2 separate regions of the Homo sapiens genome follow, and region 2 is linked to region 1. The links come from fine-mapping of genetic effects on gene expression. A gene starts in region 1. The other region holds a variant in brackets. All regions are shown on one strand. Distances are between the middles of the regions. Region 1 holds the start of ADK (adenosine kinase). Region 2 overlaps ADK (adenosine kinase).

The links.
Region 2: its variant is fine-mapped to the expression of ADK in whole blood (INTERVAL, PIP above 0.99).

The regions. Positions count from the first base shown.
Region 1 is chr10:74,146,595-74,154,934 of GRCh38, forward strand. It overlaps ADK (adenosine kinase), which reads left to right and starts at 4,627. Exons shown (of 11, transcript NM_006721.4): 1 at 4,627-4,749. The coding sequence starts at 4,685. AP3M1 (adaptor related protein complex 3 subunit mu 1) reads right to left here and starts at 4,234. Exons shown (of 9, transcript NM_012095.6): 1 at 4,161-4,234. RefSeq lists enhancers at 4,158-4,387, 4,798-4,977.
Region 2 is chr10:74,333,510-74,341,849 of GRCh38, forward strand. The region is part of intron 4 of ADK (adenosine kinase); the gene reads left to right. Among named protein-coding and RNA genes, the nearest start is that of ADK, 190 kb to the left of the region's middle. The variant AT/A (reference allele first, on the strand shown) is at 4,251.

The sequences.
Region 1 (8,340 bases):
GTCCTGTGTAATTTGACCAATTCTGGATACATCTGACCCAAATAAATATATTCAAAAAACTATTATATATACCCTTCTGGTGCTTTAGAGAAGCCAGATTGGAATCAGAATTGTAAGTAATCAGGATTTTTTGTTAATGGGAATTAATCAAAAGGAGAATTGAAACAAAAGAAAGAATGTGCATAGTATGAAGAGAGCTTATGGCAGGAACTCCAACATTTGAGTAGGAGGTGGGTCAAGGAAGTGGACCTAAAGAATGACCAAGATGTGACTGAAGAGTCCTAAGAAAAAAAAAAAAACAGGGTGGTTTTTAGTAACTATAGCTTATTAGTGTATTTCCAGAAGAATGGAGTGGTAAATACTGTTACATGGCACAAAGAGGTTAAGCTACGAGAATTGAAAATGTCAGCTGGGCGTGGTGCTCACACCTATAATCCCAGCACTTTGGGAGGCCAAAGTGGGAGTATCACCTGAGCTCGGGAGTTCGAGACCAGCCTGGCCAACATGGTGAAATCCCATCTCCACTAAAAATACCAACAAATTAGCTGGGTGTGGTGGTGGGTGCCTGTAATCCCGGCTGCTCTGGAGGCTGAGGCAGGAGAATCGCTTGAACCCGGGAGGTGGAGGCTGCAGTGAGCCGAGATGGCGCCACTGCACTCTAGCCTGGATGACAGAGCGAGACTCCATCTCAACAACAACAAAAAAGAATTGAAAATGTCTGTTGATTTAAGAGTGTTTTTTAAACTTTCTTTTCCTTAATGCCTGCTAAGGAGCCCTTTTAGACTCCATCTTCTCACCACCCTGCCAATCAAATTCCTCACCCATAAAACTTTTTATTATTCTTTCTTTTTCAACTGTAAATTGACAAATTATAGTTGTATATATTTAGGGGTACCAGATGTTATGATTTATGAAATGTGGAATAATTAAATGAAGCTAATTAATATCACCATAAAATTTTAATACCACAGAATATTCTCTGTTTATGTATTGTATTTGTGCTTTACACATAAAAAGAGTATTATATTTTTTTCACCTCACAAGAAGCAGTTTTTATCTGCTTTGAGAATGCATGATTTAACACACAGAGGACACTGGTGATCTTGGTAAAGGTAGTTTTGGTGGGCTGGGTGCGGTGGCTCACACCTGTAATCCCAGCACTTTGGGAGGCTGAGGCGGGCAGATCACGAGGTCAGGAGTTCGAGACCAGCCTGGCCAACATGGCGAAACCCTGTCTCTACTAAAAATACAAAAGTTAGCTGGGCATGGTGGTAGGCGCCTGTAATCCCAGCTACTCGGGAGGCTGAGGCGGAAGAATCACTTGAACTCTGGAGGCGGAGGTTGCAGTGAGCCGAGATTGCCATTGCACTCCAGCCTGGGCGACAAGAGCAAGACTCCATCTCAGAAAAAAAAAATAGTTTTGGTGGTAGTTCAGTGGAATGCTAGAAATAAGACATTGCAGTGGGCTGGGAAATAAATAGCAAGAAGTGTAAAAAAATAGAGATATGTAGAGTAGATTCAAGAAGTCTAGCTGTGAAGAGGATGAAAAGACAGGAAAATAAATGCAGCAGTTCATAAAGTGAAGGAAGAATACATTCAAATGCTGAAGGAAAGGTGTGAATAGAGGGGGAAAAGCTGACATAGGAGAGAGGGAAAAACGGAAAGAGGACCCTGACATAGCAGGAGAGGATGCTACTGAGAGACTAGGTCAAAGGGTTTGCCTTCTCTAAGGAGAAGGAACACTTTCTACTCTTCAGATTGAAGGGAAGGTTTGTATACTTGACTGCAGGCAGATGATGGCTCTCCTTCTCTGTGTAATGGGAGAGAGGTCATTTCCAAAGGGAGAGAGAAGTCCTCTTCTCTGTAAATACCATGTGCTACTCATGAATTGACACAGTACTGAGCTACTTAAAAATATTTAAATCTGCAAAGAACTCCCATAGCGTATGTGTATATGTATTTTTTTTTAAGAGATAGGGTCTTGTTTTGTTGCCCAGGCTGAAGTGCAGTGGACCAATCATAGCTCACTGTAACTTTGAACTCCTGGGCTCAAGTGATCCTTCTGCCTCATTCTGCCTCTACCTCCTGAGTAGCTAGGACTACAACCACATGCCACAAAGCCTGGCTAATGTTTAAATTTTTTGTAGAGATGGAGTCTCGCTATGTTGCCCAGGCTGATTTCCAGCTCCTGGCCTCAAGTGATTTTCCCGCCTCACCCACCCAAAGTGCTAGGATTACAGGCGTGAGCCACCGCACTCCATCTGCCCATAGTATATTGGTTTGTTTTTTTTTTTTTTGAGACGGAGTCTTACTCTATTGCCAGGCTGGAGTGCAGTGGCGCAATCTCAGCTTACCACAACCTCCGCTTCCTGGGTTCAAGCGATTCTCCTGCCTCAACCTCCCGAGTAGCTGGGACTACAGGCACGTGCCACCACGCCCAGATAATTTTTATATTTTTAGTAGTGACGGGGTTTCTCCATATTTGCCAGGATGGTCTCGATCTCTTGACCTCGTGATCCACCCACCTCAGCCTCTCAAAGTGCTGGGATTACAGGCATGAGCCCTACCGTGCCTGGCCGTATATTATATTAAATGGTTAGAAATAAAAATCATAAGATTAAGTAAGAAAATATAATCTTGTTGCAAAGAGAGCTTTCCTAAAGATACGTAAGGTTTTTTTTTTTTTTTTTTTTTTTTTTTTTTTTTTTTTTTCGAGGCAGAGTCTCGCTCTGTCGCTCAGGGTGGAGTGCAGTGGTGAGGTCTCAGCTTACTGCAACTTCCGCCTCCCGGGTTCAAGGGATTCTCCTGCCTCAGCCTACCAAGTAGCTGGGACTACAGGCGTGTGCCACCACACCTGGCTAATTTTTGTATTTTTAGTAGAGACAGGGTTTCACTATGTTGGCCAGGTTGGTCTCGAACTCCTGACTTTGTGATCCGCCCGCTTCAGCCTGCCAAAGTGCTGAGATTACAGGCGTGAGCCACCGCGCCTGGCCAAGATTCGTAAATTAAGATAATTCTTCATTAACCTCATTCACTTCACTTCTCCTATAGTGTCAATTGAAAGTGTCCCTCTGTCTTTCCCAAATTAATCCTTTCACTTGTAACTTGATCCCATTCCTTTCCTTCTCTTCTGGGAGACAAGACTTTTTCTTGAATCTTCAAATAGTTGCTTGCTTCCTGCCCCCAAATAGATATCTTGTATTCTTTAAAACAAACCCCAAACTTTCCCCCACCTTGCCACTCTCAATAATCTTGCTTCATGCCCCAAATGATGAAGGATTGGTCTACACTTGCAGTCTTTCCTCAGTTACTATTAAAGCATCTCTCTCAAACAGCTCAATGACTTTCTAATTATAAAATCCAACGACCTATTCTGATTTCAGCTTCCTCCTCTGACCATTGCAGCATTTTATGTCATTGATAACTTTCTCCTAAACAAAAATACTTCTTACCCTTTTATATGAAACTTCATCTGTTTTGGGTCTCACCTTGAAAGTCTTTCGGGCTTAATTCTCATAATTTTTTTTAAAGTCTTTCTACAATCTCCATGTAAACCACTGTTTCAAATTCGATAAAACTCAAACTCCATAAAATACCTCCTCCTGTCACTGGCACCATCTTCTTAATCACACATAAGGCTGTAAGTTTCAGGTTCAAACAAATCTACCAAATACAAACAGCCACATCGCCCGTCACTCTTCCACACTCACTGCCACCTGCTCAGCTTAGAACCCCGTTACCTCTCTCCTGAAGAACTGCAACACCCTTCTCACTGCATTCCTCACCCCAGGCTCTTCCAGGCACCACCCGCTAACAGGACGTCTGCTCAGGTCCGTTTGGGGTTTTGTCCTCCAAAGCAGAAACCTGGGACTGAGATTCCTGCCGTCTGTACTCCAGCTCACTATAGAGGGGGAACCCAGTAAGCTTGACCTCCGGGGCTCAGGCGCCTGAGAACACTGGGCTGCAGGTGGACCGCTCCCTTCTGGCCTTGCTGGCGAGAAAGCCCGGAAGGCCGGGAGTGGGGGGGAAGCGAGGCCCGGGCCAACAGCACCAAAGACGCTCCTAGAGCCCAGATCGGAGTCGGGGGCCCCAGCTATTCAGCCTACTCCCGGGTTTTGGAGCTGTCCCCAGTCCACAGATTTCCCGCCCCTCACACTCACCCCAACACCTGTGCCAGTCAGTGATTCGGCGCCGGATCCTCTCCTACCGAAGCTGGAGAAGCCGAGAAGGCCGCGAGGACCCGCAGCTGGAGTGCCCAGGAAATTGCCTGATTAACAGCTTCAAAGACACCGACTCTGTCTACCGTATTAGAAATTTTAAATATGCAGGAAGACCGTAAATGAGAGGAAAGACGTCTCTTGAGGCTTAGTATCTAAATCTTCTACATAATCCAGGGCCTAGAAAAATGGTGGGTTTCTCTCCATCTAGATTCAGGCGGTCATCTGCTGCCTAACGCAGTCTGGGGTCCCTCATGGTAGGGGAGGCGGGGTCAGGAATGGGCGGGGCATTCGCTGTTGGTGCCGACGGATAGAGCCAATGATTGTGGATGACAGCGGCACAGAATGGGCGGAGTCTGGAGGGGCGGGATTTGGAGAAGAGAAAGCGGTGATGCGAAGAGGGGGCGGGACCAGAGAGTGGATGGCAGAGGTGGGCTGTAGAGCCAAAGTGGGGTGGGAGCGCGAAGATGGCAGCTGCTGAGGAGGAGCCGAAGCCCAAAAAGCTGAAGGTGGAGGCGCCGCAAGCGCTGAGGTGAGCGCTGCCGGACTTGGGGAGGAGGGTGACGGCGCTGCAAGCAAGCCAGGGCCCACGTGGGGTTGCACGGCCCCGACGCTGGGTGGTGTCTCTCACTGCCAGCTTGGGGCCAACACGCAGGACCTCCCCCAGCTGCCCGCTTGGCCGCGACCCCTTGCCAGACGTTCTCTCCGTTTGGCTGAGTCCCCGCCTGTCTGGTGCAGCTCCGGCTCCAGCAGCCCTTCGCCAGTCGTGGCCCGCAGGGGGACCGAGCTGGCTGACCGCGCCACCTGCGAGCAAGCCCAGGCTGGGCTGGTGCGACCCCGGAGGGTCGGACCGGAGCAGCGTCTGTAGGCGGCCGCCTTCTCTTCCCGGGGGATGGCGGGAAAGAGGCTCGGCAACTGCTGTACACTGGGGCAAAGTCAGAATTCTTGGGGATTTTTCAGAGTGTTGCGGAAGGGCACGTTGACCTTCCTTTTCGTGCACATTCTGAAAGCCCGTACCTTTGAGGACCCTCTACCAGGGACCCAGACCCCTCCGATGCTTTGCAGGGGCAGCATTTGGATGAATGGATAGGAAAGGTTGATTTCTCTTTTTTATTTACACTTTTTGGCAGCAACGGGGACAGTGCTGCCCCTAACACCTGCCTCACATGTGATTGATGTTGCAACTTTTACTTATGAAGAGTCATTTGTTAAAATATCCCTTCCTAATAAGTATAAAGTGAAGCAGGCAGTCTTTGATGATTTGGAAATGTTCGCTGAAAGGCAGCGATTTTTTTTTCCATCTTAAAATAGACATATCAAACTGATTTAAAACTATTAGGACACTCCTGATTAAACAGGACATATCCCATTTCTTCCAGTATCACTCTTCTTCACCTCCAAAGGAAGGAATCACTCACAATTGAAAAGAAAAGGACACTTAGGGGCCTGGTGGTGTGTTCATGCTGCTTTGAATGGAGGGTGAACAAATCCTTGCCAGTTCCTTTAATGTATTCCTACTACCCTCAAAGGGTTAGTGTGCCTACCTTATACCAAGAACATAAACTTTAAAATAAAAACCCTCAGGATATTCTATTTTTATTTTAAATATTCCAACTATATGCAGAATAAAAAGCAACGGCTTTTGAATCAGACCTACCTGAGTTCAAGGCATGTGCTTTCCCTACTCTGCCCTTTATTAGAGTATTTCCTTATAAGGCACCTCCTTCGCCAAACTGGAAGACAGATGCAACTTTTCCCTACCATCCTACTGAACATATAACCCTTAGATTTCCTTAGATTTTTCCTTAATAAAAATTATTATATATAATGCTGATCCATTTTCACTGTGTTTTCCTATTTATTATCTTGTTGGACAGTTCTGTGATCAAAGGAAGGCAAGAATTATGCCTATTTTACAATTGAAGATATTGAAGCCCAAATAAAACAATTAGTACAGGAACAGAAATAGGAACTAGCTGAGCATGTTTTCTTATACCTGCAGTCCTGGTGCTTTGTGAGGCTGTGGTGAGAGCATTCCTTAGGCAACTAAAATTCACTTTATACAATATGAATTTAGTGCCACCTGTAGACATGAAGTTAAAAGATTAGACACTTGAGTACTGGGACAAATCTCTAATTTTGTGGGGAGACATTTTAGGATCGGCTATTATTACTTTTATTATATTAATTTGCTTTCAGACTCAAAGTGTGATAATGCATTGAGTATTTACACTGAATTTATGATGACTTGCTTGACAGGGGATTGCTACTGGTTTTGGTTAAGGAGAATGGATTATAAAGACTTTGCATAATTTAATGTGCAGCATCAGTGGGAACAAATAATGAGATATATTTGTAGATGTCAGGAAAAATATTTAGATTTAGGGATTTGTGAGAATTTGGTCAGCTCTGGGATAATAATTCTCCACCAGGGGAAATTTTGCCCTCCAGGGGACATTTGGCGTGGTCTAGAAAGATATTTTTGGTAGGGAGAGCTATTGGCACCTAGTGGATGGAATTCAGGGGTGCTGCTAAACATGCTACATAGGACAACCCCCACAACAAAGAATTATCTGGCCAAATACGTCAACGGTGTTGAGGTTGAGAAATCTGTTCTAGAGGGAGCATCTGACAAGACTAGTCTGCCTTTCTCAAATATCTATTATTTTTCTAGGCTCGGTTGCTTTTCAGCATATAACAGTTGCTTATAAAGAAAGAATCAGGCTCTGACATGTTTTCACGTGGGATTAGGGGAAAGAAGGGAACGTTAATTGAGTGCTAGACATTATACTATGTGCTCTATATATGTTATCTCTTTTAACCCTCCCAGTGACCTATGAGGTAGGAGCAATGATTCCTGTGTTACAGACGAGCTATTTTGTGATGAAAGAAGTGGAGAAACATTTTTGGGAACTGCTCCCTAGATGAAGGTGTTCCATGATGATCACTTATATTTAAGACAACTTAGTTTTCTTTTCTCTCCTTTGGAAATCTCATCCAAGTTCATTTCTTTAGCGATCGCCTCTTAAGAGGCTACAGTGCCTTCCAAGGCTTGTTGAGCACGTGCCAAGTCTTTTCCTTCAGTTTGTCTTTCAAGTACATGCTATTTTAGACATGGTGTTAAAAACTGGATATATATAGAGAGAGAAAGAGGTAAGGCACAGGTACCATCCTCTTGGTGGGAAATAAGTGGGGTTTGGGAAAATGACACCTGAGTATTCTTAAAGATGACTAGGAGTTAACCAGTCATCTGTGACTGTAGGGTATCTGTGAAGTAGGGTATCTGCCTTATAGGAAAGTTTGTTTGGTGGCAGAACTGGGAGAGAGCTGCCTCTTGGGGAAGTGCAGATAGTCTGACTGAAGCAGAGATGTATGGGGTCCAGGCTTTGTATTAGACACTCTCACATGTGTCCTTTCTATCTCTGTGCCTCTCAGTTCTCAGATCTTAATTTAATTTAATTTTGTATATATTTTTGAGTTGGAGTCTCACTCTGGCGCACAGGTTGGAGTGCAGTGGCACCATCTCGGCTCACTGCAACCTCTGCCTCCTGGGTTCAAGCAATTCTGCTGCCTCCGCCTCCCAAGTAGCTGGGATTACAGGCGTACACCACTATGCCTGGCTAATTTTTGTATTTTTAGTAGAGACGGGATTTTGCCATGTTGGCTAGGCTGGTCTTGAACTTCTGACCTCAAGCGATCCACCTGCCTCAGCCTCCCAAAGTGTTGGGATTACAGGTGTGAGCCACCGTGCCCTGCCTTCCCAGACCTTAATTTTTACTGTCTGCTGAGTATGTGCTTCTGAGTGACTTTCTGACATTTCGAAGTCATATATACCAAACTAAATTATCTGTTATCCTGAATCTGTGCATTTTTCCATATTTCCTGCATCTGTTAATGGCACCAGTAACCTCCTTTACTCCAAAGTTTGAGACCTAGATATTTGATTCATTTTACATCCACATTATAATGTCTTTCCTTTTCCATTCCTGCTGCCACACCTTACGTTTAGACTTTATCTTTTGCTTAGATTTTGTTTTGACTTCCTAAGCAGTCTCTTTACCTTCAGCCTCAAGTTCTGCCTACTTTTCTTTAGGCACAGCTCTACTTATTCATCACGGCAAAT
Region 2 (8,340 bases), 190 kb after region 1:
GAAACATGAACAATGGCAATTTAATAATTTTGAGGGTTTATCTTATTTGTGAGTTAATATCCATGGTGGGGAGTATGAAGGGATGCCTGCCAAATGTTATTTTATTTTTGATATCTTGATTGAGAGAGCTGAAAGGCAACAGTAAGCTATACTAATTTTTAATTTATTGTTTTGCAAATTTAATCTATTTTTTTCTCAAAAACTGTTGTAAGAAAAAAAGATTTCAAAATTATAAGTCCTGATTTAATGCTTGAATAGGTATTGAAGCATATCTGAAAGTATAATTAATTAACCTCAAATGAATACTGTAAACATTAAGTAGTTGGCAACTGAAAGTAGACGTATGCAGAAAGGGACACCAGGGATGGTACCACAGGGTCCTGGGTATATTTTTGTTTTTTTAAGGGAAGATTTACTTTTTTCTAGAAAAGAAATTCTTTTCAAATAAATTTATTTTTCAAAAAATACTTTTTTTCAAAAGTATTTTTTCCATTTTAAAATTAAGTTATAATTTATATACAAAAAAGTGATCTTTGTAGTGTATGTTTCTGCAAGTTATGACACATGCACAGTCTAGCAACCAGTATCAGAAATAAGATAGAGAATAGTTTCATCACCTCAAAACTTTCCCTGTGTCCCCTTTGTAGTCTTCCTTTCCCCTACTTCAGCCCTTGGCAATCCCTGCTCTGTTTTTGTTGACAGAGACAGTTCTCCTCACTTGTTTGTGAAGACTGTAAGGTTCTGACTGCCCTTTTTCCTGGGACATTTCTCAGGGTTATATATGCAGCTGATAAACTTGAGACATGAGATAACATCTGTTCCCAGACAAAAAGCAAGCTTATTTACTGCTTGCTATAAAATTGGTGGATTCCCTGAGTTCAGTGCTTCTCATTTGCTGATGCAAACTCACTACAAGCATAGCATCCATCTGAGCATCCCCAAAGGACTTGGGATGAAGGGAACTGATGCAAATGTGCTGATGTTCTTCTGTTTTGTCATAAGTAATGAAGTGTTTTTTCTTTGACTGAGGAGTCTTGTGTCTTCTGCCTGCATCCATGAATTAGTTAAGAGGCTTTTGTGTTAGCTTTTATTAAATAGGGTAAAATCAAATCCCAGTCTCCATAATTTTCTGTTTGTATAGTTTTGCCTTTTCCGGTGACTTGTATTGAGGGTTCCTGCTTCTGGCCAACAACCTATGAGTGATTTTTTAGGTCTGATCATAAGGCATTTACAGAGGTTTTCCTGGCAGGCTTCATAGGGGGAGGGCTGGTCTCCAGAGCAGACTTGGTGCAAAGCTTTTATAGTCTCTGAGGGGAATTGCAGTCAAGGACCCAGCCATCCTCTTATACATATCTGCGTTCCTAGCCTAGGTGCCTTCATTCAGAGGCCTCTTTATGTGGGGCTTTTGGGGAGGCTTTCCTTAAGTGTCTCTGTCAAGACTTTATTGGGGAAAAGAGGGGAAGACACTTACCAACTCTTTCTCTACTATGACTTGTACTTTTCTGTTTCTAACCCTTCCCTCTCTAGCCTTCACTCGACTCCTGGGTCTGTAAAACTGCCAGAATCTTTTGTTGGGGGTTCCCTTTGGCAATGATGCAACCCTCACATTTGTGCTGGTCTACCTGCCCTGTGACCAATGTGCCATGCCACAGGGGAAAATGGAATGGGGGGTAGCTGGCACTTTCTCCAATTTAGCCTCTTATACTGTCACAGTGATTACAGACCTATTCTTTATTTTATTTTATTTTATTTATTTATTTTTTTGGCTTGTTGCCATTGGCTGTGCCAAAACGTGGCAGCCCAGCTTTCTCCAGCTCTCCTGAGGTACTGATACACACAAATGGAATCATGTTGTGCATAGCCTTTGAATCTGACTTTCTTCAGTTGACGTAAGTTCATCTTAGATTCATCCATTTGCTTTGTCAATAGTTTTTAAATTTTAATGGCTGAGTAGTTTTCTATCATCGTGATGTACTGCACCTTGTGTCTCTATCCACTCTAGAGGGATATTTGAATTGTTTCTGGTGATTATGAATAAAGCTGCTAAAAATATTTATACGTTTTTGTGTTAACATAAATTTTCATTTTACTAGATGTATTGCCAAACTCCTTTCCAAAGTGGCTGTGCCATTTCACATTCCCACTAGTAATATATGAGAGGTCTAGTGGTTTCACATCCTTTCAGCACTTGATATTGTCAGCTTTTATTACTACATCAATTGTAAGGGGGAGAGGAGCATCTCATTGTTTGTTTCTACTTCCCTAATTATGTGAAGCACATTTTTATATGCTTATTTGCTATCTGTATATGTTCTTTGAAGAAGTATCTCTTCAAACTCTTTGCCTTTTTTTTAAAAAAAATTGTGTTTATTTTTGTTACAGAGTTTTGAGAATTCTTTATCTGTTCTGCAGACAAGACTTATCAGATGTGTGATTTGCAAATATTTTCTCCTAGTGAGTGGCTTGTGTTTTCATTTTCCTAACAATGTCTTTCAGTGAGCAGAAGTTCTTACAAATTTATGTACTTTTAAAATGGATTATGCTTTTGTGTCATATAAGAACTCTTTGCCTAATCCAGGGTGAGAAAGATTTACTCCTATATTTTCTACTAGAAATTTCATAGTTTTACTTTTTACATGTAGATCTGTGATCCATTTTGAGTTAAGTTTTGTGTATATTGGGTGAGGTCTGTAACAGAGTTTTTGATTATTGTTTTTTGCTATTGTTTTTTGCTTTGGCATATGGATATCCAATTGATCCATTACTCTTCCCTGAAGTCTATTTAAATCTCTTTAATTGCCATTGTACTTTTTTGAAAATCAATTATGTGGTTGTATATCTATGTTCCATATTCTGTTTCATTGATCTATATGTCTCTTCTTTCTCCAATATCATACTTCTCTGATTACTGTAGCTTAATGTGTTTGTTTTTTTTGCTGTCTAATCATGGAAGTTGAATTTATTGCATTTTACAGGTCAATATTTTTTGTAGTTGTAGACGTCTGTAATTTTGCACTGTTAATTTTAATGTAATGGACATATTAGAAATTAGGTTTTCAATATGCAGGGGAAATGCTGTTAATTTACAATTGAAGAGAGTTATGAAATAATAATAAATAGAAAAAGTAAATAGAGAAAGGAAAGTACAGTCATCCCTTAGTGCCCATAAGGGATTGGTTCTAGGACCCTCTGTGGATACCAAATCCATGGATACTCAAGTCCCTTAAATGGCATAATATTTGCACATAACCTATGCATATCCTCCCATATACTTTAAATAATCCCCAGATTGCTTATAATACCTAATACACTATAAATGCTAAGTAAATACTTGTTATACTGTGTTATTTAGGGAATAATGACAAGAAAAAAGTCTGTACCTGTTCAGTACAGACTCAACAACTATCCATTTCCCCCACTTCCAAGTATTTTTGATCTGCTGTTGGTTGGTTGGTCTGCAGATGCAGATCCCATGGATATGGTGGGCCTATATATATGTCTTATTTATTGTCACTACCTTTTGCTTCCAAGTATTTTTTATTTTTAATGAGAGTTATTTTGTTGTGGTGGGTGGTTTAACATACATAAGTTTTCCCAGCAGCAGAACCCTGAAGCAAGGATTTTAGAACAAAGTCTACTTTGGAGACGTATGTAACAGGCAAGAATTGATGCAAGGAAAGCAAGGCAGCTAATGAAGACTTACTAACTAAACTAACACAATAGGTTGCTGGAGCTTTATCTTGTGGGATAATTCTGGGAAAGTCAGTGTCAAATTTAGTTTCGGGACTAACTCACCTGAAGTGTGAGAGAGTGAGTATATTTCCTGTTACTGGTTGTGGACTGCCATACAGAAGACATTGCACCTGCCTGGTGCTGTGGTGGGCAGAGTAGCATTCAGCCATTCAGAGGAAAGCCCTGAGGGATACAGAGGAAGATACTGGCTATTGGAAGTAATTTGGAATGGTGGGAAAGGGTTAGGTCCAAAGGATACTGTACAGACACTGACATTATCTGACTCATGCCTTGTGAATTTTAAGTGCCTTTCCTGGGTTATCAAAGTGAATAGCTTTAATCAAATCATCTCTATAAAGACATTTCTAAGTAAATTTTCTATACTTACACTCCTCTACTTTTTATTACTACAGCTGGCTTCATTAGCTTTTTGTATATTAATCTGTGTTGTCCTACTATTAGCTAGAAGAGCTTACTAACTGTGAGCTTGAAGATATTGTATATTCCCTCTTCGGATG[AT/A]TTTTTTTTTTTTTTTTTTGAGTCAGAGTCTTGCTCTTGTAGCCCAGGCTGGAGTGCAGTGATGCAATCTCGGCTCACCGCAGCCTCCGCCTCCCGGGTTCAAGTGATTGTCATGCCTCAGCCTCCCGAGTAACTGGGATTACAGGCACCTGCCACCACGCTGGGCTACAAATGTATTTAAGAATCTTAAATGAGCTGTGATTGCACCACTACACTCCAGTCTGGGTGACAGAGCGAGACCCTGGCTTCAAGCAGTCCTCCTGCCTCAGCTTCCTAAAGTGCTGGGATTACAGGCATGAGCCACTACCCCTGGCCTAAATTCCTTTTCTAGCCTCTATACAGAATTTCTAGGATAACAACAACAACAACAACAACAAAAACTTAAATGATAAAAATGAATATATAAAATAGCAAGTAAGCCATGTAAAATATTTTCAATATTCTTAGCCATTAGAGAAGTGCAAATTAAAACTATAAGATACTGCTGCATACATATGTGGATAGCGAAAGTAAAAACTGGTGAGAATACAGAATGAATGGATTTCTCATCTGTTGCTGATAGGAAAATGACACAGCCACTCTGGAAAACAGTTTGGCATTTTTAATAAAATTAAAGATAAATATTCCATATGACTCAGCAATCATATTCCTGAGTATTTAACATAGAAAAATGGAAATTTATGTATATGTAAAAACTTGCTACACAAATATTTACATCAGCTTAATTTGTAATTGCCTCAAACTGGAAAGAATCCAGATAACTTTCAACAGGTGAATAGATAAACAAACTGTGATATATCTATCGAATGGAATACCAAGCTTTGTAAAAGAATAAATTACTGGTACAGTCAACAGTTTCCGTAGATCTTAAGTTCATCACACGAAGTAAAAAAAAAGCTAAACTCAAAGTGTTACATACTGTATGATTCCAATTATATAGTATTACTTAAATGAAAAAAAATTAGTGTTGGAAAATTAACCTGTCATTCCAGGAGTTAGAGATAATGTGGGAGAAGGGGATAGGTATGACTATAAGGGAGTTGCAGGAGAGGGCTTCTTTGTGGTGATGGAATAGTTCTGTGTCTTAATTGTGCTGGTGAGTACATGAATCTTTACAGCTGATAAGATTTTATAGAATAGTACACACACACTAAGAACAATGCATGTAATGTCTACTTTGGGGAGCTTTTTTTAAAAAAATTTCTTTTAAGAGACAGTGTCTTGTTCCATTTCCCAGGCTGGAGTGCAGTGGCACAATCATAGCTCACTGTAGCCTCAAACACCTGGGCTCAAGGGATTCTCCTGCTTCCAGCCTCCCAGGTAGCTAGGACTATAGGTGCATGCCACCATGGCTCGCTAATTTTTTTATTTTTATTTTTTGTAGAGATGGGGGTCTCACCATGTTGCCCAGGCTGGTCTCAGTCTCCTGGCTTCAAGCAGTCCTTCTGCCTTGGCCTTCTAAAGTGCTGGGATTACAGGGGTGAGCCACTGCCCTGGCCTAAATTCCTTTTTTAGCCTCTTCACAGAATTTCTAGGATAACCAATATAAGTAAAGTAGATGTTATTTTTAAAATGATCCACTTTATACACTAAATTAAAAGACAGTCTTGATTTCTTCAAAATTCTTTGCTGTGAAGTGAAACGTTTGGTAATCATATATCTTGTTGACATAAACATACAGATTCCTCTGCATGTAACATTCTTTTCCTTCACTTTACCAATTTGTGCCCATTTCACGTATCTCAGCCTATATCCCTTTTTCATGATCATCTTACCTCTGACATAACTCTTTCACCCACCAAATCTGTGTTTGGTGTCATTTCTATGATGGTCCCATACAAAGCTGGACTCATTTTACAGATGCAAAAAGTGATGAAATAATGAACAAGTTAATGGCCCAACTGAAACTGTGGTGTTGGACATAAACTTTAGAATAAATCCTAAATCTTAAGTGTGCAAATAAATTATTCAAAACATGAGATTACCTAACCTATTCTAGTGATATTTAACAGAGATATGTTTGTAACTGGTGGAAGAAGAATCACTCCCTAGGTACAAGATCAATTACTGTTCATTTTATTCACCTGAAGATAAATCACTTTCACAGATTTTGCAGACTACTTCTTTTCCTGAAAAAATGATTTATTAAAGTGGAGGTTTCTTTACTATATCAACACTGGCTTACTCTTTTCTTTATAATACTTCTATACTGAAAGAAGCCAGAGGCCAAAAGTAGTCTTGTTTGTGCTGCTCTTTATTTCATTGTTATTTTTAAACCAGATGATGAAATTCCCTTCCATTTTGAAGGGCCATTTTTCATGTACATAGGAGGGAATTTAAACTGTTTGAGTTAATATTAACATATTCTATTACTATAAATTGGTTTTAGTTTGATTTTAAAATAGCATATTAATTTACATTTAATTTTAGTATTCAACTCTGATCAGAAAAATAGTATTTTGGATGTAGGGGTAAGGAAAAGGTGTGAAATTCCAGTTAAAAATCTAAAGTACTGTGTTTATTGTTTCATTGTGTGTCTGCATTTAGTATTGTTTGTATGAGAAAAAGTCAGTTGTTTCCTTATATTCCCATATAATTTTTGAGTAGTATGACAATCTTCATTTATATACCTGATGACTTTTAATTTTTAAAATGTTGTCTAAACCAGGTTTCAGGTGATATATCTTGCTTCCTAATTTGACAACTCTGAATATTACTATTGAAACTTGTAAGCAAGTAGAAATTAAAATGAAGCCATACATAGCATTTGCTTTGATTAAAAAGAATAGAAACCTAGACTGTTTTGGAAAATTCAGTGTATATTTCAGTGTATATATATTATGTGTTTATATATTGACAGATCTGGGCATCAGAATAGAGTCAAGAAATAACATAAATAGAAATTCAGTAAGAACACATATGAAACTGGAAACCAGTGGAGGAAAACTGAGGAATTGCTGTTTGTGAGAGACTTATTTTTCACTCAGTATACTTTTTTTTACTGTTTTAATTGTCTATATAGCATGCTGCATATTACCAATTTTAAATACTTAATTTTGAAAGATTAAAATGGCTGGCAAATTTATTGCCCATTTGCAAAGTACATTTATATCAGGCATAGTACAATATGTAGAATGTTATTGGAACATTGGAACATTGTGTCTGAAATACTTTTTTAAAAACCTCATAAAATATGAAAATACTTCTTAATGATTTCAATATTAACTCTATTCATTAGACATCTATCATTATCCTTTATGTCAGAAACTTAGAGTGAAATCTTATTAGCTTGATTGAAGAACACTTGTTCTCATTTCATTGTGCTATAGTTAACATTCAAAGTTAAAGTTATTTTTCTTCTCCTTGATAGTATACTATAATAAGTATATTCAAAGTGATGCTCTAGATTTGTTTCCTTCACATTTAGACTTGCATTTTTACAATGTTTATACTAAGGTTTCTTACACTTGCCATAGTATATCTGTGCGGTGGCTTACTCCTGTTAATCCCAGCAATTAGGGAGGCCCAGGCAGGTGGATTATGAGGTCAGGAGTTTGAGACCAGCCTGGCCAACATGGTGAAACCCTGTCTCTACTAAAAATACAAAAAAAAAAAATTAGCTGGGTGTGTTGGCGGGTGCCTGTAATCCTAGCTACTCGGGAGGCTGAGGCAGGAGAATCACTTGAACCTGGGAAGGTGGAGGTTGCAGTGAGCCGAGATCCTGCCACTGCACTGCAGCCTGGACAACAAGAGCGAGACTCCGTCTCAAAAAAAAAAAAAAAAAAGGATTTTTGCAATCATTAACTTACTTCTTGCTGTCTGTTTTTATTGTCTTTGGCTGTCCTTCTTAACTTCTTCAAAGATTTCTAGTATATTTACACTCCTTAATCCTAAATCCAGTGTATGTTGGCTCTCATGGTAGTTTTCCATTTCATGTACTTGCTTGTATAATATAAATCCCTGTTCTTGGTGTTTTGTGTATTTATTTATTTGGCTGCCATTGTATTGAAAATTGTCTTGACAATTCATTTATGAACATCATTAGTACAGCAATATGTAATTCAAAACCAGCATGCTCAAATTTGTACT